Linked DNA regions of Homo sapiens: region 1 is linked to region 2. The links come from fine-mapping of genetic effects on gene expression. A gene starts in region 2. The other region holds a variant in brackets. All regions are shown on one strand. Distances are between the middles of the regions. Region 1 overlaps MACROH2A2 (macroH2A.2 histone). Region 2 holds the start of AIFM2 (AIF family member 2).

The links. PIP is the estimated chance that this variant, and not a neighbour inherited with it, causes the effect.
Region 1: its variant is the best candidate, but not a certain one, in a credible set for the expression of AIFM2 in monocytes after interferon gamma (Fairfax 2014, PIP 0.54).

Annotation. Positions count from the first base shown.
Region 1 is chr10:70,110,937-70,114,936 of GRCh38, forward strand. It overlaps MACROH2A2 (macroH2A.2 histone), which reads left to right. Exons shown (of 9, transcript NM_018649.3): 9 at 582-1,346. The coding sequence ends at 747. It overlaps AIFM2 (AIF family member 2), which reads right to left. Exons shown (of 9, transcript NM_032797.6): 8 at 3,984-4,000; 9 at 1,335-3,393. The coding sequence ends at 3,242. Among named protein-coding and RNA genes, the nearest start is that of AIFM2, 20 kb to the right of the region's middle. The variant G/A (reference allele first, on the strand shown) is at 1,712.
Region 2 is chr10:70,130,973-70,135,484 of GRCh38, forward strand. AIFM2 (AIF family member 2) reads right to left here and starts at 1,853. Exons shown (of 9, transcript NM_032797.6): 1 at 1,762-1,853. RefSeq lists an enhancer at 1,644-2,144 and silencers at 1,666-1,875, 1,708-2,027.

The DNA of each region.
Region 1 (4,000 bases), 20 kb before region 2:
GCACTCTTCACTTGGCCAGCCCTGTGACCTTGACTAAAATCATTGTGCTTGGCAGGGCACGGTGGCTCACACCTGTAATCCCAGCACTTTGGGAGGCCGAGGCAGGCGGATCACCTGAGGTCAGGAGTTCAAGACCAGCCTAGCCAACATGGTGAAACCCCGTCTCTACTAAAAATACAAAAATTAGCCAGGCATGATGGTGCGCACTTGTAGTCCCAGCTGCTTGGGATGCTGAGGCAGGAGAATCGCTTGAACCCGGGAGGTGGAGGTTGCAGTGAGCTGAGATCGCGCCACTGCACTCCAGCCTGGGCAACAGAGAGAGACTCCATCCCAAAACAAATAAATTAATTTAATCAAATTAAATCATTGTGCCTCTCCGAGTCAGTGTGACACCTATAAAGTGGGGGCAACATGCCCCACCTGCCACCCCCAGGCTGTCCCTTTGGCTAGGGTCAAAGGAGATCATGCATGGACTAGCCCTGCACACAGCAAGGCCCCACCCAGTAAAAACAAAGGCACTTCATGCTCCCATGGGTCCCAGGGACCAAAATGACATCGGCTCTTCTTTTGCTTTGGCACAGAAACTGCTTTCCCAAACAGACTGCGGCCCAGGTGACCCTCAAAGCCATCTCAGCCCACTTTGATGACTCGAGCGCGTCCTCGCTGAAGAACGTGTACTTCCTGCTCTTCGACAGCGAGAGCATCGGCATCTACGTGCAGGAGATGGCCAAGCTCGACGCCAAGTAGCCGCCGCACTTTCCAGCAGGGATCGGAGGACGACCCGAGTCCCAAGAGTGGGGTTTTGCTTTTTAAAAGGAGAGAGGAGGGGTGATGGCAGGGGAGTGGAGGGTGGCCGGGCAGGTCCTGCCGGCGCAGGGAGCCCTCTGCCCTTCACACTCTCCTCCAAAAGAGCCTCCATCTGTAAGGAAGCAGGTCTCCGCGAGGGGTTTCTTTCCATGTGTTTTCCTCCTGTTGTTTTAGAACTTTTTTAAAAAAACAGACCTCGTTTTAGATTTATAGCATTGACTTTTACACACATTCACACAAGAAAAAAATCCTTTCAAAATTCTTAAATCTTCTGTTCCTCCTTTTTCCAAGGGAAGAGGGCAAAAAGTGGCCTGGGCTCTGTTGGTGTGCGTGTTCCGTGGCGGAGAGAAGAAAATGGGAAAGACATCTCACTGGTGCTTTTCTCTTTTGTTTTAGTGCCCCCCGCCCCCATCCCTATAATATCTGTAACTACTCCTAAAAAGGTTTTGATTCAGGCTTTTTTTTGGTTTCATTTTGTTTTTTTAAGAAAAAGAAAATGAAAGGAAAAAAATAAAAGATCCAGTGTCTTTCTTACAACATATTCTTTTATTGCAACATTTTCCTCAGTTTGGAAAACTGTGTCCCCACACGTAGGTCCTTCTAGAATATTGTAAGTCAATAGAAGAAGGCCTGTCGCTCACACACTGGGATTCCCACCTCGCTGGACCCCAGGTCAGATAGCACCAGGGCCTGTGTTTCTTAGGCCGAAGGTCCTGCCTCCAGGAAGGTGGGCTTCCCTTCGTGGTCCATAAAGAAAGACAGATACTTGGATGCAACCACCAGGGGAACAGCCATCCTCCAATAGAGGCACACGACTCACTTAGGCCTGGGCGACAGCCCCAACGGGATGGCCTGAGAACCCCAGAGAGGCTGGTGTCCCAAGGACTCTGCCCGAGTACCCAGA[G/A]GCCACCATCAAAAGGGAGCAGGGAGGGGCAGGGTGGGGAGGTGGGGCCTGAATTTCTTCAGATGAACTCATCAACCACTTCTGCTATGCAGATTTAACCCAGGCAGTCCAAGAGGGGCTCCTCTGGATTGGAAGATCTCTCCCAAATAGAGGAATCATTTATACACTGTAACATAGTCGGTGGCAGACATTAGTGCCCAGCTGGGCCTCCAGACAAGTGACCCTGGGGTTGGCCAGGAAACCAGAAGCACAAAACCACAAAGTCCCTCAAGGGCCCTCTCCCCATTCCCAGCATCAGCTGGAGTTTTGTCACTTACAAATCTGCCCATAAGTAACCTAGAAATATGCTGGGGGTCACCCGCAGAAACCCCCTCTGCTCGCTAATGGGTAAGCAGATGGCACCCCGCAAAGAGTCACATTATCTGCCCTTCCTTAAACACCTCCAATGGCTGGCAGGCCAGGCTGCAGTCTCAACCCCTGCTAGCCGTGTAAAAATGCACTCTGTCAGGGTGGGGTAACCAGAAGAGCACATTTATCTAGCTCTTTCTTCTTAAATGAAACCTGTGGTATGGAGTAGGATCTAAAAGTGGAAATGTGCTGGCCGCAGTGGCTCACGCCTGGAATCCCAGCACTTCGAGAGGCCAAGACGAATGGATCACCTGAGGTCAGGTGTTCGAGACCAGCCTGGCCAACACAGTGAAACCCCGTCTCTATTTAAAAAATACAAAAATTAGCCAGGCATGGTGGCACGTGCCTGTAGTCCCAGCTACTTGGGAGGCTAAGGCAAGAGAATCACGTGAACCCAGAAGGCGTAGGTTGCAGTGAGCTGAGATCGTGCCACTGCACTCCAGCCTGGGTGACAGGGCGAGACTGTCTCAAAAATAAATAAACAAACAAACAAATAAAGTGGAAATGTAGGAAGGCCATGAGGCTTAAGGAGCACAGGGATTATGCACCTGTTAGCAAATTGAAAACAAGGCTCCTGTGAAGTCCCTGGTTGTTGCAGAATGTATGGGCTCCCCGACCGTGTGATGGCAGAGATTTGGGGTGCTGGGCCTCTCTCCACCTCAGGTCCCTCCTTTGTTCTCAATGTGCAGCTCTCCTTCCTGCCCTCACAGACAGACACTGGCCACCAGAGCCCAGCAATCTGCCCTGCTCTGAGAGCTCTAAATGGCACGCGTCATGACCACAAGCACGTACACACACATGCACATCCCAGAGGAGGCAGGTGCAGAGGAAGGGCTGGCTGTGGCCTCCCCAGCACCATGCAGCCAGCACACATGAGCCGCTCACCCAGTACCACAGCAAGCACACCTTCCAAACCCAGAAAGTATCCTCTAAGGGGGGTATTTGTTTAATACCTCTCTCTCTCCCATTTTTGTTTTATACAAGTTGCATTTCTAGCCACCACATCATTGGCATCTTATTCCAGAAGAATAGCATTAGTTCTAGCACTTGCCAGGCGGGTGCCATGCGCCAAGCAGTCCGTACGCCCACCTGCTGCGGTAGTTCTCCCGCCTGGCCTCTCCATCAAGGTGGAGACTGCCTCATGGTTTTCCAGCTCGTAGAGACGAACAGGTCCCGGCTCTTGGTCAGCCGAACCATGAGCCGGCCCACATAGAAGCCACTGATTTGGCCCACACCGTCATTTCTCCCCATGGACAGGAGGAACGTCAGTGCACCTGCAAGCAGAGACACAGAAACAACCAGAACCTCACTGAACCGCCTGGGGCTGCACCTCCCAGAGTGCCGATCCTTCCCGAGGCCTTCAGACTCAGGGCCGGAAATGTGAAATCGCTTTAGGAAGGTGGGTGAGACCCTGATTTTTTTTTGTTTGTTTTTTTGAGACAGAGTTTTGCTCTTGTTGCCCAGGCTGGAGTGCAATGGTGTGATCTTGGCTCGCTGCAACCTCCACCTCCTGGGTTCAAGCCATTCTCCTGCCTCAACCTCCCGAGTAGCTGGGATTACAGGCATGCACCACCACACCTGGCTAATTTTGTATTTTTAGTAGAGACGGGGTTTCTCCATGTTGGTCAGGCTGGTCTCGAACTCCCGACCTCAGGTGATCTGCCCGCCTCGGCCTCCCAAAGTGCTGGGGTTACAGGTGTGAGCCACCGCGCCCAGCCTATTTTTAAAGAGCTCTAAGGGGATGTTTCCATCACCAGCTTGGAGAGTTTGTTCTAGTGGCCAGGTATGGGATAGCCCAAAAAGGCTTCCCCATGTTTAACCCCAAACTCTATTAAAACTGCAAAGCACATGGGGCCTCTCTTACCCGGCTTGTAGGCCTGG
Region 2 (4,512 bases):
GTCAATCCTGTTTTCTCTGCCAAGAGCATCCACCCTGATCTCAAGGGTATTATTCCACAATAAGCAGCCCATAGGACTACTGAAAAACCAGGAAGTTACATTTATGCCAAAGCTGTTCAGAGGTTGTGCCTCAGAAGACACACAGCAGGAACCGTGTGGGCTCTGATCAAAGCAAGAATGTCATCCCAGAGTTGCTCCAGTATTGCTTCACAAATATTACAAATAAAACACGATGCTTTTTGAGTCGTCATGGCTCACACAAAGGGTAGGTTTCAACATCAGCCTCTGGAGAGCCACATTCCCAGAGTGGCCGTCCCGGATAAGAAGGCCACTACAGCACGACTCACAGCACCATGGAGGTTTCCTCCACCTGCGGGACACAGCAGGATGGAGACGGTTGGGCGGCCTCCCTTCCTGGGACACTCCATGGCCAGCCCCTCAGGGACTACTTGAAGAACAGAACCCCCAAAAGACCAGTTTCTGAAAAGGGACTCAAAGTCTAAGGGAGGCAGCCTCCTTTTATCCCCAGGGGAGGGCAGCTCTGGGGCAGACAGGTTCATCTGGATGTCATATTCACTCCCGCACAGAAAACCTAGGCCAAGCAATTTGTCCATCCTCCTCAGAGCCAGTTTTGTGGTCCCCATGGTCTGCCCACCACCTGTACCTGGACGCTGGCTTCATTTGGCCACCAGACAAAAGTCAGGCTGGCCCTGGAGTCCACCGGCCTGCCCAGCCCATCACTTCTGGGCTAGGTAGTGCTAAGCCTGCCCAGCCCACCCTGGCTGGGGCTCAGTGCCCTCTTCTTGGTGACACACTGTGCTCCTTGGAGAACTCCTCTCTAGGTGCTGGGGTGAGGGCAGGTGTGATCTGAGATCCCGGGGCTCTCTGGCAGGTGCATGCACGCACACTGGAACCTGATACAGGCTTTTGAACACAGGTGCACAGTCCAGAAACCTGCAAGTCCCATCCCAAACTATATCTGACTCTCTGCCCTATGCCTGTCCTCCTACAGGATCATCAGCCCCCAAGAGACCTCACCACTCCCCATCCTCACCTTAAATTCCAGGGTCAAAAAGACTCTCCTTGTAGGGAAAGGTAGGGTGTGTTGATCAGGTGGTGTTGGAAGGAGAGCCCCAATATAGGCCACTAATTCAGTTCCAGGTGGACTGCACGCGTCCCATCAGAGTTAGTTTACTCACCGCTGGTCTTTGTCCCTGCAGCACCCAGGGCTTCGGGAAGGGAGAAGCAGACTTCCTAGTGCTGCACCCCCCAGCTCCCCCGAGCCTATGGGCACTGGGTTGACTCCAGTTTCTTTCCTCTTAGAGACTGAGGTTTCTCCCTTTCCTCTCACACCTGCTTCTGTCCGGACCGGCCGCTTCTACCCAGCGGACCCTCGGACGGTCCTCGCAAGATCCGGGTTACACCCGCCCCGTGTTCCCTCTTCCCCGGTTCGCCCTTCCCGGCCTAAGCCCATCTTCCTTAGGAAAACTTAGCAGGGATTTAGGGGCCAAACCAGGAGGGTGGAGTTTTCTTTGCCCTCGGCCAGGAGCACATCTCCCTGTTGCGTTTTTTGGGGGAGACAGAGAGGGGCGGGCCTGAGTCGAGTATCCCTCTCCTCGCAGCGCCACAACTGCGCGCACCGACCTCCCCACGCCAGACGCGGCGTGAGCCAGGCCTCTAATCCGCTCGCCCCTCTTCCGGGTCCCGGTCCCGCCCGGGGCGCCCGGGGTCTCGAGAGCCCGCCTGGCGGCGCGATCTCACCTGTCGGCCGCGCCCGCGCGCTCTCGCTCCGGCTCCCGCTCCCGCTCCCGCTCCCGCTTGGTCGTCTTCCCGAGTTACTGACCCGAGGCGCTCCCGGGCGGGGCGTGACTCAGCACTCGTGCTGGTCCCCGACCCCGCGGCAACGCCCCGGCCAGGCCCCGGAAACGGTCCTGGCACGCTGGGGCTGGTCTCCGAACGGCCCGCCGGACTAACCTTGACCCTGAGCGAACGGCCTTGAACTTTGAAACAAATGCTCCCATGGCCAGATGTCGCCTCTCCGGCTCCTGCCAGCACCCGCGCCCCAGTCCTGCCGAGCCATTCAGACTTGGTTTAAAGTGTCCTTTCAGCATACTTTAAAGCAAAAAAGAGAGAGAGAGAGAGAGAGAGAGAGAGAGAGAGAGAGAGAGAGAGAGAGAGAGAGAGAAGGAAGGAAGGAAAACAAGCATCCCCCTGTTCCTCTGATTTTCTCGAGGACACCTTTAAAGCCACTGGAACCTTGGAGAGTGGGGTTCCCCTCACACGTTGGGCGCACTGCCAACATCCTTCCTTCAGACATACACATAATAATTCCGCAAACCCTGTTGAGCTCCTACATTTGCCAGGCACTGTGCTAGGCGTTGGAGGGATAACTTGGAGAGAAAACTGACAAGGTTCCTGCTTTCACGGAGGCGACAGTCTGGGAAAAGACAGATATTAAACACACCACCAAAAAATACATGTATAGAGAAAACAAAAACCATGTATCACCAACTGCAGTAAGAAAGATTGGGCATGGCCAGGCACGGTGGCTCATGCCTACAGTCCCAGCACTTAGGGAGGCCAAGGCGGGAGGATCGTTTGAGCCCAGGAGTTGGAGACCAGCCTGGGCAACATAGCGAGACCTACAAAAATTAGCCGGGCTTGTTGGTGCACACCTGTAGTCCCAGCTTCTCGGGAAGCTGAGGTGGGAGGATTGCTTGAGCCCAGGAGTTTGAGGCTACAGTGAACCATGATCATTCCACTGCACTCCAGCCTAGGTGACTGTGAGATTCTGTCTCAAAAAAAAAATAATAATAATAATAATAATAAATGAAATGAAATGAAAAAATAAAAAAGAAAGACTGAGGGCAAAGGAAGGGTGCAAATACTTCTCTCCAAGGATGAGAAAGAGGTAGATTTAGGTAAAGAGGAAGGAAGTGTGGTCTGGATGTGCAAAGACCCACAGGCAGGACAATGACCTGGAAGGCAGTGTATTGCCAGCTCAAATCAGACCAAGCTAACTCAGCGAAAGATAAGCCATCTCCATCTACTTACTGCAAATATTAGCACCTACTTTAAGAGTTGTGGATAAGGGCCAGGCACGGTGGCTCACGTCTGTAATCCGAGCACTTTGGGAGGCCGAGGTGGGTGGATCACCTGAGGTCAGGAGTTCGAGACCAGCCTGGCAAACATGGTAAAACACTGTCTCTACAAAAAATTAGCCTGGCATGGTGGCACATGCCTGTAGTCCCAACTACTCAGGAGGCTGAGGCAGGAGATTCACTTGAACCAGGAAGGCAGAGGTTGCAGTGAGCGGAGGTCATGCCATTGCACTCCAGCCTGGGCAACAAGAGCGAAACTCCATCTCTAAAAAAAGAAAAAAAGAGTTGTGGAAAGGCCTCAATGAGATCATTTTTATAAAGTGTTTTAACATGGTGCCTGGCACACAGTAGCAATGAATACACAGCAGCCATTTATTATAGATATTTTATATTGCAGATTATTTTGCCCAAGGCAACCAGAATGATTTATTTTTGATGAAAAATCCTACTCATCGTCTTAGAAAAACAATAAGCTAATATTTATTGATCACGAACTAAGTGCTTTGAATGACTTCTCAAGTTTTTTTGTTTGTTTTTGTTTTTTTCACAAAGGTCCTGCAAGGTAAGTTTTATTAATCTCCATTTTGCAGATAAGGAAATTTAGGCTCCTAGAGGCTAAAGAATTTAGGCAAGGTCCCTCAGCTAGTAAAGCAAGGGGGTGGGCCTACAATGGAGGTCTGAACCATGACCCCTTTTTGGGGGGTAGGGGGACGAATCTGGCTCTGTCGCTTAGGCTGGAGTGCAGTGGCATGCTCTCGGCTCACTGAAGCCTCCACCTTCCAGGCTCAAGCGATTCTCATGCCTCAGCCTCCCAAGCAGCTGGAATTACAGGCACCTGCCACCACACCCGGCTATAGTAGAAACGGGGTTTCACCATGTTGGCCAGGCTAGTCTCAAACTCCTGGCCTCAAGTGATCTGCCCACCTCGGCCTCCCAAAGTGCTGGGATTACAGGTGTGAGCCACTGAGCCCAGCCTGAACCATGACCTTAAAGCCAGGAAACCCCTCAGCAAGCATCATCCCTAAGGAGCCAGAGGGCACTGCTCAGGCAAAGCAGAATCTCAGTTGTGGGGAATTTACTGGGCATGTACCCAGTAAGATGTGACACAGAGAGGTGAACAGAGAGGCTACAGCCTGCCCACTGCACGGAATCAGCCCTGAGGCTTGGGATGGTCATGGAAGGCTTTGTGTAGAAGGTAGGCGTGCAAGGATGAAGGGGATGCCAGCTGGCAGGATGCAAGGAAAGGACTCCAGAAAGAGCAGGACAAAGATAAAGCTGGAAGAGAGGCGAGAGAGGTGTGAGGTGGCCCAACACTGGGCTCAGGTGTGCCAGGGCTGGTGTGGCCCATCTCTAAGGACCTGTCCCAAACCATGAAAAACTTTTTTTTTTTCCTTAAGACCTGCTACAAAGC